Linked DNA regions of Homo sapiens: region 1 is linked to region 2. The links come from fine-mapping of genetic effects on gene expression. Tissue or cell type: whole blood. Region 2 holds a variant in brackets; the other region holds the start of a gene. All regions are shown on one strand. Distances are between the middles of the regions.

The links. PIP is the estimated chance that this variant, and not a neighbour inherited with it, causes the effect.
Region 1: it holds the start of ARHGAP1, and the variant in region 2 is fine-mapped to the expression of ARHGAP1 in whole blood (INTERVAL, PIP 0.95).

The regions. Positions count from the first base shown.
Region 1 is chr11:46,697,165-46,705,267 of GRCh38, forward strand. It overlaps ARHGAP1 (Rho GTPase activating protein 1), which reads right to left and starts at 3,455. Exons shown (of 13, transcript NM_004308.5): 1 at 3,387-3,455. It overlaps ZNF408 (zinc finger protein 408), which reads left to right and starts at 3,867. Exons shown (of 5, transcript NM_024741.3): 1 at 3,867-3,935; 2 at 4,235-4,512; 3 at 5,540-5,601; 4 at 5,820-6,079; 5 at 7,189-8,103. The coding sequence starts at 3,884. RefSeq lists a silencer at 3,211-3,330 and an enhancer at 3,661-3,950.
Region 2 is chr11:47,203,740-47,211,842 of GRCh38, forward strand. No RefSeq gene overlaps it. Among named protein-coding and RNA genes, the nearest start is that of DDB2, 7.2 kb to the right of the region's middle. RefSeq lists a silencer at 5,974-6,153. The variant C/T (reference allele first, on the strand shown) is at 4,026.

The sequences.
Region 1 (8,103 bases), 510 kb before region 2:
GCACAAGGCAGACTCGACCACCAAGCTGGGTTTCTGTAGGTCTGGAATCTGGCCAGAAGGCTGCAGCCGCATGCAGCCTGGGGGTAGGCACCTCTGCCCTCAGCCCTAATGGGCAGCAACTCCCCCTCCTGCCACAAGCTCCCCACATGAGGGAGGGCAGTTTTTAGTTCAACCTATTCAGTCTAACCCCAGGGAAGAGGCTGCTCCATGTCCAGCTGCATTCCTGGAGCCCCAAAACTGACATATATGGTCAGAGAATCAGCAGGGCAGATAAGGAGAGCAGACAAGCCCTGGGGGTGGGCAGGAAGAAGAGGGGGAGAGCTGCCATCCCAGAGCCACAGACTCTGGGCTCTGAGGCCACTTGACAACCTCCTGCACACATCACATCACAGCCAAGGGCCCTGGATGGTGAGCCCTCTCCCTGTGCCTAGCAACAGCCACCCTATCACCAGGGCAACCACACGGATTGAGTGGTAACGCTGTTTCATGCTCCCAAGCCAAAGCCAACCAGCGAAAACAGCCCAAAAAAACCCTCTTCTTCCTCTCCCTGTCCCCTGTCCTCATCCACTACCCCTGGTTACCACCAAAATATAATCCCTTCCCAAGAACACAGAGAAGAATGATCCCTCACGGTCAGGAATGCATTTCTCTGAGTGATGCCAAAGCCCAGCTCCCTCACTCCCCTTCAGCCTTCAACCCTTCAACCCTTCAACCCTTCAATATCTACATGTGCTTCCTGCCATCCAGCCAGGAGGCTGTGGGAGCTGCTCCCCATAGCGACCTCCAGCTGGGTAATAAAGACAGAATCCAGCTCAAAGCAACCCCCTCCAGGCCAGAGCCTTCTCTCTACCCTTTCTATTCAGCCTGTCACTGCCCAGGGACCAGGGGCTCCTTCAGCCCCACCTACAGCTATCCCAGAGACATCTTTCTGCACAAAGTAGGTGCTGATGCCATGAAATGATGAGGTAGTATGGAGAGCTGGATTATCATCCTGCCTAAGCCAGTGAGCTGCAAAGATGCTGAGCAAGTCCTTTTCCTACTTGGGCCTAAATTTCCTCCTCTGTAGAGGCAATGGCGCCTCCCAGAAATATAATTCTCCAGTGTTCAGAAATACTTTGTGCTGCAGTGAACAACAGGATTAGAAGGAGCAGCCGGGGCCGGGCACGGTGGCTCATGCCTGTAATCCTAGCACTTTGGGAGCCCAAGGTGGGTGGGTCACCAGAGGTCAGGAGTTCAAGACCAGCCTTGCCAACATGGTGAAACCCCATCTCTACTAAAAGTACAAAAAAAAAAAATAGCCAGGCATGGTGGTGGGTGCCTGTAATCCCAGCTACTCAGGTGGCTGAGGCAGGAGAATCACTTGAACCCAGGGGGTGGAGGTTGCAGTGAGCTGAGATCAAGCTACTTCACTCCAGCCTGGGCAAAAGAGCAAAACTCTGTTTCAAAAAAAAAAAAAAAAGGAGCAGCTGGGAGCTGGGGTGGATGTGAAGGAGGGAGAAGGACACCATCTAAAAGGGAGCTGAACTTGAACTTCACCTCTTTTCCAGTGACTGCTCTTCTATGCTGTCAGTTCTTCCAGACATGACCTCCCTCAACGCCCCCACATAACCTCCTTTCCCAGCATAACTAAGCCCAGTGGTTCCCATCTCCCAGTCAGACTGGCCCCTCCCACTACCCCCAACCCACAGTTTAACTTCTGAGCCTGGAAGTTAAACTCCCATTCAGTGGGAGGGTGAGGAAGCTAGCACAGGGAAATTCTAACATCAAGTAGTAGAAATGAAGTATCCTGCCTGTTTAAGACACCAGCCACCCACAAGCCTGCTCTACTCTGTGCAAAATACACCCAACTCTGAGATTAATTTTTCCATTCTCAGCAGGTAAACCTTTACAAAAATCTTAAGGATCACCTTAGGCAATCACTTTTAGGAAGTTGTAGACTTTTCTGAAATTGGTAACATGTGTGGACTTTTTCCCTAAGAAAACTTAGGAGATGTATGCAATTTTAAGAGGTTCATACACCTTCTGAGAATCACTGTTTAAGAACTTCTGGTCTATTCAGAATGACACCTGATATATAGTAGATGCTATCATTTGTTGAATGAATGAACCAATTAATTCATCTCCTAAGTAAAGAAGGGAACCCACACTTGTTGAGGGCCTATATAGGACCATGAACTGGGGACACAAACTCAACCTCACGATAGCACTGATGAGGCATGTTCTACTAAGCTCATTTTACAGTGAGGAAAGAGAGGACCAGCCGGGCACGGTGGTTCACGGCTGTAATCCCAGCACTTTGGGAGGCCGAGGCGGGCGGATCACAAGGTCAGGATTTGGAGACCAACCTGGCCAAGATGGTGAAACCCCATCTCTACTAAAAATACAAAAATTAGCCGGGTGTGGTGGCGCGCGCCTGTACTCCCAGCTACCTGGGAGGCTGAGGCAGAAGAATCGCTTGAACCCGGGAGGCGGAGGTTGCAGTGAGCCGAGATCACGCCACTGCACTCCAGCCTGGGCGACAGAGTGAGACTCCGTCTAAAAAAAAAAAAAGAAAAGAAATCATATTCTCAACGTTGGAATCGGCCTCCCAGTTGCAAATCCCACCACAATACAACAGCAATTACAACTCTCAACTACAATTATGTTTGCATAGAGCTTCACGGTTTACAAAGCCCAGGTTACGTTTTGCAATTATCCTGTTTCACAGATTAAGAAGTTGAACTGAGGCCGGGCGCAGTGGCTCACGTCTATAATCCCAGCACTTTGGGAGGCGGGGGCGGGAGGATCACGAGGTCAGGAGTTCGAGACCAGCCTGGCCAACATGGTGAAACCCTGTCTCTACTAAAAATACAAAAATTAGCCGGGCGTGGTGGCGGACGCCTGTAATCCCAGCTACTCAGGAGGCTGAGGCAGGAGAATCGCTTGAATCCGGGAGGCGGAGGTTGCAGTGAACCGAGACTCCAGCCTGGGCAATAAGAGTGAAACTCCGTCTTAAAAAAATAAATAAGTTGAACTGAAAGCGTGGCCTAATAAGTGGCAAGGAGGAACACTTCCCCCAAATTTCTTCTTCTTAGTGCTTTGCCAGATCAGATCTGGGAGATTTCCCCCTCCCGCCGGCTTGCTGGATGACAGCGATCCGGCCTGGACTCTGCCCTGGGGAAGGCAGGAAGAAGGTAGTGAAAATGATTAAGTCCTCTTATTGCAGGCGCCAAAATGGGGCAGAAACCCTGCAGGAAGGCCAGGCCTCTGAGCCCAGTTCCACCCCCGTTCCCCTCCTCGGATCTGCTCCGGTCCTCCCCATCCGGACCCCATCCCTTCGGACGACCTGGCCAGCTCCTTTCCTTTCCCCATCCCCACCCGGGGAGACCCCGCGCCCAGCAGCTCACCGCGCTCGGGCACTGCTCCCTCTGCCACGCCTGTCAAGGCTCGGCAAACATCCGGCTCCGCGGTGGAACGGGAACCGCCCCCTCCCGCTCTCTTCTATCCCCAACCATTTCCGCCACACCTCCAACCCACTTCCGGCCCCAAACATGGCCTTTCCAGGAGCCCCGCCCACTTCCTGCACATGCCCGCCTAAGTTCCTGCCTCGGGGAGGTAACAGCATAACTGTCCGACTCGTCGCTCCCAAAGAGATGGCTGGAACAATTAGTTCCGCTTTCCCAGCTAGTCGAATCACTGGTGCACCTCCGGAATCCGAGGTTCGCATTGCTCTCGGACAGAGTTCTGCCTCCCCAGTACTCCCAAACTCCCAGTCCTGTGCACCAATGAGGTCCAGCTCTGAGGCTTCTTTCCTGAGAAAAAAATTTGGAAGTCCGTGACTGTTTCCTGGAGGAGCTGAGAAGAGGAAGCTCACTTCCGGCGTAGGGAGGCTTTCTGACCCGGAATGGAGGAGGCGGAGGAGCTGCTCTTGGAGGGGAAGAAGGCGCTGCAACTCGGTGAGTGACCTGCGATGTCCGCGACCCTCAACCTTGGCCCAGGTGGATCTGACGCTCTGTGGTCAGCTTTCTCCTCAGTCTTCTCTCCTCCGGATCCCAGGATCCTCCAGTGCCCTCAGAGTCGCTGGGGGCTTCTGAAGAGCCCTTGAGCCTCCTCAAAACTTTCAGGGCCCTCCTTAGAGCCCTCACCTGTCCCTCGGGCTCCGCAGGCCCACCTGGACCTGCGGTTTCCTCCCACACTTTTCCCCACCTCCCACCTTCTTGGGTGGCTCCCTCACTGTCTTCCCTTCTCTCTGCAGCCCGCGAGCCGCGCCTGGGCCTGGACTTAGGATGGAACCCTTCCGGAGAAGGCTGTACGCAGGGCCTCAAAGACGTCCCACCCGAGCCGACCCGAGACATCCTCGCTTTAAAGAGCCTTCCCCGGGGCTTGGCCCTTGGCCCCTCACTCGCCAAGGAACAGCGCTTGGGGGTCTGGTGTGTCGGGGACCCCCTGCAGCCCGGCCTGCTGTGGGGGCCGCTGGAAGAGGAGTCTGCCTCCAAGGAGAAGGGCGAGGGAGTAAAGCCACGGCAGGAGGAGGTATTGAAGGATAGAGCGACTTCCCTCCGCCCTTGAAAATGTAGGGGAGGTTTGGACATTGCTAGACAGCTTTTCAATTTGAAGAAAGAGAGTATTTCAAGAGATAGGAGATAGTCTTGTCCCTTCTCTTCAGGACTGTCTCCTCTCAGCAGCAGTAGTTAAAGAATCGAGGTTTGAAAAGTTGTTGAAAGCTGGAATCATACAGTGTCAGCAGTGAGTGAGGAAGGTCAAGAGCTAAGGTTTTTGGAATTAAGAAAGCATGGGATCAAATTCCAGCTTTGTCACCTAGCTGGTTAAATTACGTGCCGCATTTAATTCATCTGTGAAACAAAGCAGTGGCTCTCTTGGGATTATATGGAGGAGCTGATGAAATAGTGAAGATAAAAGGTTTCACTGCACAATAAGTACCATTTTATTTTATTTATTTTTCTTTTTTCTTAGACAGTCTTGCTTTGTCGCCCAGGCTGGAGTGCAGTGGCACGATCTCGCCTTATTGCAACCTCCACTTCCCAGGTTCAAGTGATTCTCATGCCTCAGCCTCCCGAGTAGCTGGGATTACAGATGTGCACCACCACACCCAGCTAATTTTTGTATTTTTAGTAGAGACAGGGTTTCACCATGTTGGTGAGGCTGGTCTCAAACTCCTGGCCTCAAGTAATCCGCCTGCCTGGGCCTCCCAAAGTGCTGAGATTACAGGTGTGAGCCCCCGCGCCTGGCCCAATAAATACCATTTTAAAAAGCTGGTGTTCCTTATTACTTTTTCTGTTTAGTACTCACTGGAAGACAGTAATGTGTTCAATTTAGTAATTCTCCATACCCTTGGGAGGGAGGTGAGGAGACAGACTTTTTGGTCCTTACTGAATGAAGAATCAGACAGCACTGTCCTGTTAGAGGAGAACCAGAGGCTTCTAACCTTCCAGGAGTTTCATCTTAAATTTGTCCCAGGAAAGTTTCATCTAGTTTCTTTTTTTATTCCTACCCGACCCCTCGAACACATTTGAGAAGGACTTTTGTTGGTTTATTTCAGAACCTGTCATTAGGCCCATGGGGAGACGTGTGTGCCTGTGAGCAGAGTTCTGGCTGGACTAGGTAAGTCAGAGGAGAGTGTGTCGTTCCTTTGAGGTTTTCTGTTGTGGTTTGGGATGGAACCCGGTGCTGACTGTCATTTCCTATTCAGTGCTCTTTTGCAGTGAATGTTCCAAAGGCACGGCGTCCTTTAGGACCCAGACTGCTTGGGGACTGGGGCTTTCGGGGAAGACCACTTGAATAGTGAGCATCTCCTAGCTGGCTGTTACTTTGCTTTGCAGCTTGGTACAACGGGGCAGGCTGGAGAGTGAGGGAAATGTGGCCCCAGTGCGGATCAGCGAGAGGCTTCATCTGCAAGTGTACCAGCTGGTGCTGCCAGGCTCTGAACTGCTGCTGTGGCCCCAGCCTTCCTCTGAGGGCCCAAGTCTCACCCAGCCTGGGCTGGACAAAGAGGCAGCTGTAGCAGTGGTGACAGAAGTGGAGTCTGCTGTACAGCAGGAAGTGGCCTCCCCTGGGGAGGATGCAGCAGAACCTTGCATAGGTATGTGTCAAATAAATGCTGGTTTCCCAGCAATTTCCCCACCAAAACAACCTGTTGATAAGACAAAGCAGAGTTTATGGCTCATTGCGGTAAGGAAGGACACTATAGAGTCTTAGTAGCTTTTCAAAATCTGTTTTAAGGTGGATCTTTCAACATGGGATAGGAGGGTGGGGCTTGATTAGTATTGGGTAAGGATTATGACTGAATAGCTTAGGGTTGGTACATACAGCAAGGCTAGAATTTTCAGGCAAGGGACAGTCTCAGACTATGAATTGTCATTCATTGCTTTCTGTTGAAGAGCGACGGGTCTGTTCTTTGGAATAACAATATAGATATTTGCAACTTTTACCTTCCTAAGAGCTTCCTGGAATAGTAAGAAAGAGAGTAAGCTTTGTATGTACACGGTTTCCAGCCTCCCATGTTTCTTCTCTCTGGCGTGGGGGTTCTTTTATATTACAGATGAGCTAAGGTGGGAAGGGGTTTTTTTGTTTTGTTTTGTTTTGTTGTTGTTGTTGTTGTTGTTGTTGTTTTTTTTTTTTTTTGAGATGGAGTCTCACTCTGTCGCCCAGGCTGGAGTGCAATGGCGTGGTCTCAGCTCGCTGCAACCTCTGCCTCCCAGGTTCAGGTGATTCTCCTGCCTCAGCCTCAGCTAATTTTTTTGCATTTTTAGTAGAGATGGGGTTTCACCATGTCAGCCAGGCTGGTCTCGAACTCCTGGCCTCAAGTGATCTGCCTGTCTCTGCCTCCCAAGATGCTAGGCTTAACAGGTGTGAGCCACCGTGCCCGGCTGGAAGGGGTCTTGAATCACATCCTAAATATGTGTCTCCAGGGGCGAACAAGGGGATTCTCCATCTGGGATGGCCTTATTCTAGTGATTATCCAGATGGCTGGGACCCCATGGCTCTCAGGAGTGCTTCTCCAAAAGGCGCTTAAGGCTGGACAGGAAGATAAATGGAGTGTGCACCCCATGCTCCAGGGAAGAGATTGGTATCATTGCTCCCTCTAAGGCTCAGGGGCTGGGTGGGAGAAAACATCTGATCCTGTAATTCCCTGGTAACACCATCTGCATTGAAGCTCCCTAAACCCAGTACCCCATCCTTGCCTTGCAGATCCTGGTTCCCAGTCACCCTCTGGCATCCAGGCAGAGAATATGGTGAGCCCTGGACTTAAGTTCCCAACCCAGGACCGAATTTCCAAGGATAGCCAGCCACTTGGCCCATTGCTTCAGGATGGCGACGTGGATGAGGAATGCCCGGCCCAGGCACAGATGCCACCTGAACTTCAGAGCAATTCGGCTACCCAGCAGGACCCAGATGGCAGTGGAGCCAGTTTCTCATCTTCTGCCAGGGGCACCCAGCCGCATGGCTACCTGGCCAAGAAGTTACACAGCCCCAGTGATCAGTGCCCACCCAGAGCAAAGACCCCAGAGCCTGGAGCCCAGCAGTCTGGCTTCCCTACACTCTCGCGGAGCCCTCCTGGCCCAGCAGGAAGCTCCCCAAAGCAGGGGCGACGGTACCGGTGTGGAGAGTGTGGCAAGGCATTCCTACAGCTGTGCCACCTAAAGAAGCACGCATTTGTGCACACGGGCCACAAGCCCTTTCTTTGCACTGAGTGTGGCAAGAGCTATAGCTCAGAGGAGAGCTTCAAAGCCCATATGCTGGGCCACCGTGGGGTGCGGCCCTTCCCCTGTCCACAATGCGACAAGGCCTATGGCACCCAGCGAGACCTCAAAGAGCACCAGGTGGTACATTCAGGTGCCCGGCCCTTTGCTTGTGACCAGTGTGGCAAGGCCTTTGCCCGCCGGCCCTCCCTGCGGCTGCATCGCAAGACCCACCAGGTGCCAGCTGCCCCTGCCCCTTGCCCATGCCCTGTGTGTGGGCGGCCCCTGGCCAACCAGGGCTCCCTGCGGAACCATATGAGGCTCCATACAGGAGAAAAGCCTTTCCTGTGCCCGCACTGTGGCCGGGCGTTTCGTCAGCGGGGCAACCTGCGTGGGCATTTGCGGCTCCACACCGGGGAGCGTC
Region 2 (8,103 bases):
ATAAATTTGGATAGTGATGGAAGTGTCAAATAGCTTCATAAATACCAAAAAAACAAAACAAAACACACACACACACACTCAAGCCTCAAGCGGGCATGGTGTCACATGCTGTAATCCCAGCACTTTGGGAGGCCGAGACGAGTGGATCCCTTGAGGTCAGGAGTTCGAGACCAGCCTGGCCAATATGGTGAAACCCTGTCTCTACTAAAAATACAACAATTAATCGGGCGTGGTGGTGTGCCAGTAATCCCAGCTACTCAGGAGGCTGAGGCAGGAGAATTGCTTGAACCCAGGAGGCGGAGGTTGCAGTGAGCCGAGATCGCGCCACTGCACTCCAGCCTGGGTGACAGAGTGAGGCGCTGTCTCAAAAAAAAAAAAAAAAAAAATTAGCCCAGCGTGGTGGTCTGCGCCTGTAGTTCCAACTGCTTGGGAGGCTAAGGTGGGAGGATCGATGCCCAGGAAGTTGAGGCTCCAATGAGCTGAGATCGAACTACTACACTCCAGCCTGGGTGACAGAAACCCTGTCCAAAAAAAAAAAGAAAAACCAAACCCAAGCCTCACCTCTGTCTTTATATATGGGGGATGAGACACCATCCACACACTAAATCAATATCATGTCATAAAATACCATATGTACAGAATGCCAGGTAACTTCTCTAGGCAGCCAGATTTGCACAGCAATCGCCAGAGTGCTGAAATAATATATGTGAAATGTGTAAACTGTAAAGTGTTCTGCAAACAGACATTGTGATATAATCTCCTGGTGATATGTTAGTTACTGATAAGGTCTCATGATGATGGTGAAGAAGCCCTTTGCTGTTCTCAGAAGTCCTCACTGGTTAGAAAACCGTCATAGAAAGAACTGGAACTCCAGAATCAGAAACCAGGGTTTTGAGTTCTGGTAGATCCTTCCTCTCACTGTTCTCATGCCAAAGCCCTCTTCCAAGGATGGCAAAAATCCCAAGTGGCAGAAATAAAAATGATTCTGTCTGTGTTACAGCCAAGCTAGTTCCCTATGGGTGGATGAGTCACATGTGAGCAGAGCTGGGAGAACTACATTTACATTCCTTTACATTTCCCTCTTTCCACCCTCCTTTCCACTGCCCTGTGTTGGCTCCTGTCGCTATGACAAAAAACTTGCTCAAGAAACCCCAGCTTAGTTTCTCTATGGGGAGGAAGGTGGCAAGCTACCTGGGTAGCTGTGGTTCTTGTTGGTGAAGCCCATGGCCCAGTGGGGCGGTGTCTTTGTACAAATCCACACACGTCCTCCCCTGTGCTCCAAATTGTGAGTGCACATCCCCAAAGACTTTTTTTTTTTTTTGAGACAGAGTTTTGCCCTTGTTGCCCAGGCTGGAATGCAGTGGCACGATCTCGGCTCAACCACAACCTCCGCCTCCCAGGTTCAAGCAATTCTCCTGCCTCAGCCTCCTGAGTAGCTGGGATTACAAGTATGCACCACCACGTCCAGGTAATTTTGTATTTTTAGTAGAGAGGGGGTTTCACCATGTTGGCCAGGCTGGTCTCGGGCTCCCGACCTCAAGTGATCCACCCGCCTCGGCCTCCCAAAGTGCTGGGATTACAGGCGTGGGCCACTGCGCCCGGCCTCCCCTTCATACTTGACTATCCCTGTGTCATAAGGACTCAGAATCTGAGGGTTTTGTCATAATTATACACAGTCTAGAAGACCAAGCCACACTTGGGTTGGCAGCATTTAAGCTGCTGGGTCATCCTGCAAGGAGGCATATTTGTGAAACTGGATGAAGAAAAAGTAGGAAAAGCTACCTACTTTTTAAGCTCAGGAAGCATTTTATAAGATTTCCAAGGCTAACAGCTGCAGCCTCCTCTAGCTCCTCTAGCTGGGTTGACTGTAGTCCCTAAAAAGATACGTCCATATCCTAATCCCCAGAACCTGTGGATGTTATTCTATGTGGAAAAATGATCTTTTTGGATATAATTAAAGGTTTGTTTTTGGCAGGTGCAGTGGCTCATGCCTGTAATCTCAGCACTTTGGAAGGCCAAGGTGGGGGGATCACCTGAGGTCAGGAGTTCCAGGCCAGTCTGCCCAACATGATGAAACCCTGTTGCTACTAAAAATACAAAAATTAGCCGGGTGTGGTGGTGGGCGCCTGTAACCCAGCTACTCGGGAGGCTGAGGCAGGAAAATTCCTGGAACCCGGGAGTTGGAGGTTGCAGTAAACCGAGATTGCGCCACTGCACTCCAGCCTGGGCTGGACAGAGCGAGACTCCATCTCAAAAAAAAAAAAAAAAAAAAAAAGGTTTGTTTGAGACAGGATCTCAATCTGTCACCCAGGCTGGAGTGCAGTGGCGTGAACATGGCTCACTGCAACCTTGAACTTCTGAGCTCAATGGATCCTCCTACCTCAGCCTCCTGAGTAGCTAAAACTACGGCCACATGCCATCACACCCAGCTAATTTTTATATTTTTGTAGAGACAGTATGTCACTGTGTTGCCCAGGCCAGTCTCCAATTCCTGGGCTCAAGAGATCTACCCATCTCAGCTTCCCAAAGTGCTGGGATCACAGGCTTGAGGCACTGCACCTAACCTAATTCGGAATTTTTAAGTGAGGTGATCATCCAGGATTATCCAGGTAGGACTTAAATCCAATGGCAAGTGTCCTAATAAGAGTAAGGCACATTGGCCAGGTGTGGTGGCTCACACTTGTAATCCCAGCACTTTGGGAGGCTGAGGCAGGCGGATCACTTGACCCCAGGAGTTCGAGACCAGCCTGGTTAACATGCTGAAACCCTGTCTCTACTAAAAATACAAAAATTAGCTGGTTATGGTGGTGCACACCTATAATCCCAGCCACTCAGGAGGCTGAGGCACAAGAATTGCTTGAACCCAGGGAGCAGAGGTTGCAGTGAGCCAAGATCGTACCACTGCACTCCAACCTGGGCGACAGAGCAAGACTTTGTCTCAAAAAAAAAAAAAAAAAAAAAAAGTGAAGCACATACCAAAAAGAGTAAGGCAAGCCAGCGTGGTGGCCCATGCCTATTTTGCCAGTTACTTGGGAGGCTGAGGTGGGAGGATCTCTTGAGCCCAGGAGTTCGAGACCAGCCTGGGCAACACAGTGAGACCCCATCTCTAAAAACAAACAAAAGAGCGAAGGAGAAGGAGGTCAGATACAGAGAAATAGATGCACAGAGGAGAAGATCCTGGGAAAATGGAGGCAGAGATTGGAATGACAGGCTGTAAACCAAGGGATGCTAAAGATTGCTGGCAGCCACAAAAGCTAGGAGAAAGGCAAGGAAAGATTCGAGGCTTGGTGCAGTGGCTCATGCCTGTAATCCCAGCACTTTAGGAGGCTGAGGCTGGAGGATCACTTGAGGCCAGGAAGTTCAAGACCATCCTGGTTAACATCTCTACAAAAACTAAAAAAAAAAAAATTAGCCAGGCATGGCAGTGCATACCTGTACTCTCAGCTACTGGGGACGCTGAAGAAGGAGGATCCCTTGAATTTGAGGCTTCAGTCAGCTGTGATCATGCCACTGCACTCCAGCCTAGATGACAGAACAAGACTCCATCTCAAAAAAAAAAAAAAAAAAAATTTTACCCCGGAGCCTGGGGAGTGTGGCCCTGCCAACACTTTAATTTTGGATTTCTGGCCTCCAGAACTGTGAGAGAATATATTTCTGTCATTTGAAGCCACTCATTTACAGTAACTGGTTACAGCCACCCTGGGAAACGAATACACCTGGTCTCTGCTGTGGTGCTCAGTGTTACCAACCGGTCCTCACTTTCCCAGTTCTTAGCTGTGTCCCTCTGCAAATCTTAGCACCTCTCTGATTTTCAGTCTCCTCCTTTGTAAAACGGGAAGAGTAAGTCCTACTCTGCCAGGTTGTTGTGAGGCCATGGTGACAGAGTGCTGAGCGGAATGCCAGGTGTACCACAGACGCAACTTACGCATGAGTTCCCATCCTCCCCCTTCTCCACCCTGGTCCAACCTCACCTTGGGCACAGAGCTCCCATTGCAAGGCTGAGGAGCAGGGTTCCTATACCTTTT[C/T]CTGGGACTCGGGTTCATTGGTGATGTCCAGAATAGTGCATGACCCTGCCTTCTTGACAAATCCTCCCAGACATCTCATCAGCATCTCAAATCCAATGTGTCCAAAGGTGAACTCTTGATCTTTCCTTCTTTTTCTGTCTCTTTCACAGTTTACCTCATCTCAATAAATGGTATTTCCAGGTAGCTAAACATCTGGACGTCATTTTTGCTTTCTTTTTTCTTTTCTTTTTTTTTTTTTGAGACAGAGTCTCACTCTGTTGCCTGGGCTGGAGTGCAGTGGCATGATCTTTGCTCATTGCAACCTCCATCTCCTGGGTTTAAGCGATTCTCCTGCCTCAGCCTCCAAGTAGCTGGGATTACAGGCATGCGCCACCACACCCAGCTAATTTTTTTTTTTTGAGATGGAGTCTTGCTCTGTTGCCCAGGCTGGAGTGCAATGGCGCAATCTTGGCTCACTGCAAACTCCGCGTCCTGGGTTCAAGCAATTCTCCTGCCTCAGCCTCCTGAGTAGCTGGGATTACAGGCGCATGCCACCATGCCAAACTAAATTTTGTAATTTTAGTAGAGACGGGATTTCATCATGTTGGTCAGGCTGGCCTTGAACTCCTGACCTCATGATCTTCCCGCCTCAGCCTCCAAAAGTGCTGGGATTACAGGCATGAGCCACTGTGCCCGGCCGTGATGATGGTGTTGTGTTTTGTTTTTTGTTTTTTTTTTTGAGACGGAGTCTTACTCTGTCGCCCAGGCTGGAGTGCAGTGGTGTGATTTCAGCTCACTGCAACCTCCGCCCCTGAGTTCAAGCGATTCTCCTGCCTCAGCCTGCCGAGTAGCTGGGATTACAGGCACCTGCCACCGTGCCTGGCTAATTTTTGTGTTTTTAGTAGAGACGGGGTTTCACCATCTTGGCCAGGCTAGTCTTGAACTGCTGACCTCATGACCCACCTGCCTCGGCCTCCCTGGGATTATAGGCGTGAGCCACCATGCCCGGCTGTGATGATGTTTTTCTCTTGGTTTATCATGGCCACAGAGTAGCCTTGTCTGGTGTTCATGTATTGTGAAATTATTTACTTCAGTGGAACATCAAGGCCTAGCTGATAGTACCAGGCCCACTACCACATGCCAGGGCTTCATTTCCTTTCTCAGAACTCACACCCGTTCCCAAATGTTACCAAGCTGTTCCTTGCCTAAGAGGCTCTTTTCCATTCCCCAGCCAAACACTACTTTTTTCAAGTCAAACTGCACAAAATTCCATCTCTCCTGTGAGGTCTTCCCAAAGACAGTGAAACCACCTTTGCAATATTATAACTGATACAGTGAAAGTGATCTAACTTAACCAACTCCATCTTGTTTTTAACCTCCAAGCTGTCCTTGTTCATTCCTGGGCGTAGGCTGAACTAACTTTGGGAGAAATTTATTTATAATTTACAGTGAAACAAAGACAATGGCTGGGCACAGTGGCTCATGCCTGTAATCCCAGCACTTTGAGAGGCCGAGGTGGGTGGATCACTTGAGGTCAGGAGTTCGAGACCAATCTGACCAATATGGTGAAACCCCGTTTCTACTAAAAATACAAAAATCAGCTGAGCATGGTGGCGTGTGACTGTAGTCCTAGCTACCAGGGAGGCTGAGACAGGAGAATTGCTTGAACCCAGAAGGCAGAGATTGCACCGCTGCACTCCAGCCTAGGCAACAGAGAGAGACTCTGTCTCGAAAATAAATACATACGTACATACATACAATACATAAAACAAAGACGATAACAGCCCTTTCCCAAAGCAGACCATCTTCCTTCTTGCCTAGGGACTAGGTTGCCTCTGTAGGACTAACATTAGCTGCAAGATTATAAATAATTATGGTTTAGGAGTCATGCAGCTGGAGGATACAAGATTCTGACCCTCCCTAAACTGCTCCTAAGATCAGTGCTTGAGATATTTTGCAGACCCTGCACTTGATGGATCAGCTGGCCCCACCCAGGTCGATAAACTGGCTCACCTGATCTTGTGGCCCCCATCCAGGAACTGACTCAGAGCAAGAAGACAACATCGACGGCCTATGATTTCATCCCTGACCAGTCAGCACTCCTGGCTCACTGGCTTCCCCCAAATCACCAAGTTATTCTTAAAAACTCTGCTCCCCGACTGGGCATGGTGGCTCATGCCTGTAATCCCAGCACTTTGGGAGGCAGAGGCGGGTGGATCACCTGAGGTCAGGAGTTCGAGACCAGCCTGGCCAACATGGTGAAACCCCGTCTCTACTAAAAATACAAAATTAGCTGGGCATGGTGGCGCATGCCTGTAATCCCAGCTACTCTGGGTGCTGAGGCAGAATTCCCTGAGCCCAGGAGGTGGAGACCGCAGTGAGCTGAGATTGCGCCACCACACTCCAGCCTAGGTGGCAGAGCGAGACTCCGTCTCAGAACAAAACAAAACAAAAAACCAAAACACCACCACCAACAACAAAAACTCTGCTCCCCCAATGCTTGGGGAAACTGACTTGAGTAATAATAAAACTCCGGTATCCTGCACAGCTGGCTCTGCGTGAATTACTCTTTCTCTGTTGCAATTCCCCTGTCTTGATGAGTTGGCTCAGGCAAAGTGAACCCCTTGGGTCGTTACAACAGTACTACTGTCTCCATAGAATTAGCTTTCCTGAGTGCATCCAAAAATCTTAATTGGTGACCAGGCATGGTAGTTCATGCCTGTAATCAAAGCAATTTGGGAAGCTGAGGCTAGAGGATGGCTTGAGCCCAGGAGTTCAAGGCCAGTCTGGGCAACATAGTGAGACCTTGTCTCTATAAAACCAAAAACCAAAAACCTTGGTGGGCATAGCATACTTAGTCTTCAAATGTGTACCTACCTTGAAGTATTTTACTTGTTTCACATATATTTTTATTCAGTTCCCAGTAGGTTGTAAATCTTTTAGAGGCAAAGTCCATTTCTTACACTTCAATATCCCCTGCAACTGAGCACCCTGCTGAAGGACAGGTTGGTCTTAGTTGGCATGTTGGTTGGTCTGAATAAGGGGAGGGGGCGAACAGTTTGCTTCTGCAACACAGCTCTGAAAACACAGCTCTAGGCTAGCAGGGGAGAAGCTCCCAGCTTGCCCCTTTCCCAGGCAAAACCATTTCTTTTTTTTAATTTTTAATTTTTTATTTTTTGAGACAGAGTCTTACTCTGTCGTCCAGGCTGGAGTGCAGTGATGTGATCTCAGCCTTTTTGTGTTTTTTTTTCTTTTTTTTGAGACGGAGTCTCACTCTGTCACCCAGGCTGGAGTGCAGTGGCGCGATCTCGGCTCACTGTAAGCTCTGCCTCCCAAGTTCACGCCATTCTCCTGCCTCAGCCTCCCGAGTAGCTGGGACTACAGGCGCCCGCCACCACGCCTGGCTAATTTTTTTTGTATTTTTAGTAGAGACAGGGTTTCACCGTGTTAGCCAGGATGGTCTCAATCTCCTGACCTCGTGATCTGCCCGCCTGGGCCTCCCAAAGTGCTGGGATTACAGGCGTGAGCCACCACGCCTGGCCGTGATCTCAGCTTACTGCAACCTCTGCCTTCCCGGTTCAAGCGATTCTCATGCCTCAGCCTCCTGAGTAGCTGGGATGACCGGCACGTGCCCCATGCCTGGCTAATTTTTGTATTTTTAATAGAGAGGGGTTTCACCATGTTGGCCAGGTGGGTCTCAAACTCCTGGCCTCAGGTGATCTGCCCACCTCGGTCTCCTATTGGGATTATAGGCGTGAGCCACCGCAACCGGCCTTCTAATTTCCCTTTTGGAGCATTCATTCCGTTGCAAGAGCTTATTTAATTTTTATTTATTTATTTATTTATTTATTTTTGAGACAGAGTTTTGCTCTTGTTGCCCAGGCTGGAGGGCTATCACGCCATCTTGGCTCACCGCAACCTTCGCCTCCTGGGTCCAAGTGATTGTCCTGCCTCAGGCTCCTGAGTAGCTGGGATTACAGGCATGTGCCACCATGCCCTGCTAATTTTGTATTTTCACTAGAGATGGGTTTTCTCCATGTTGGTCAGGCAGGTCTCGAACTCCCGACCTCAGGTGATCCGGCCGCCTCGGCCTCCCAAA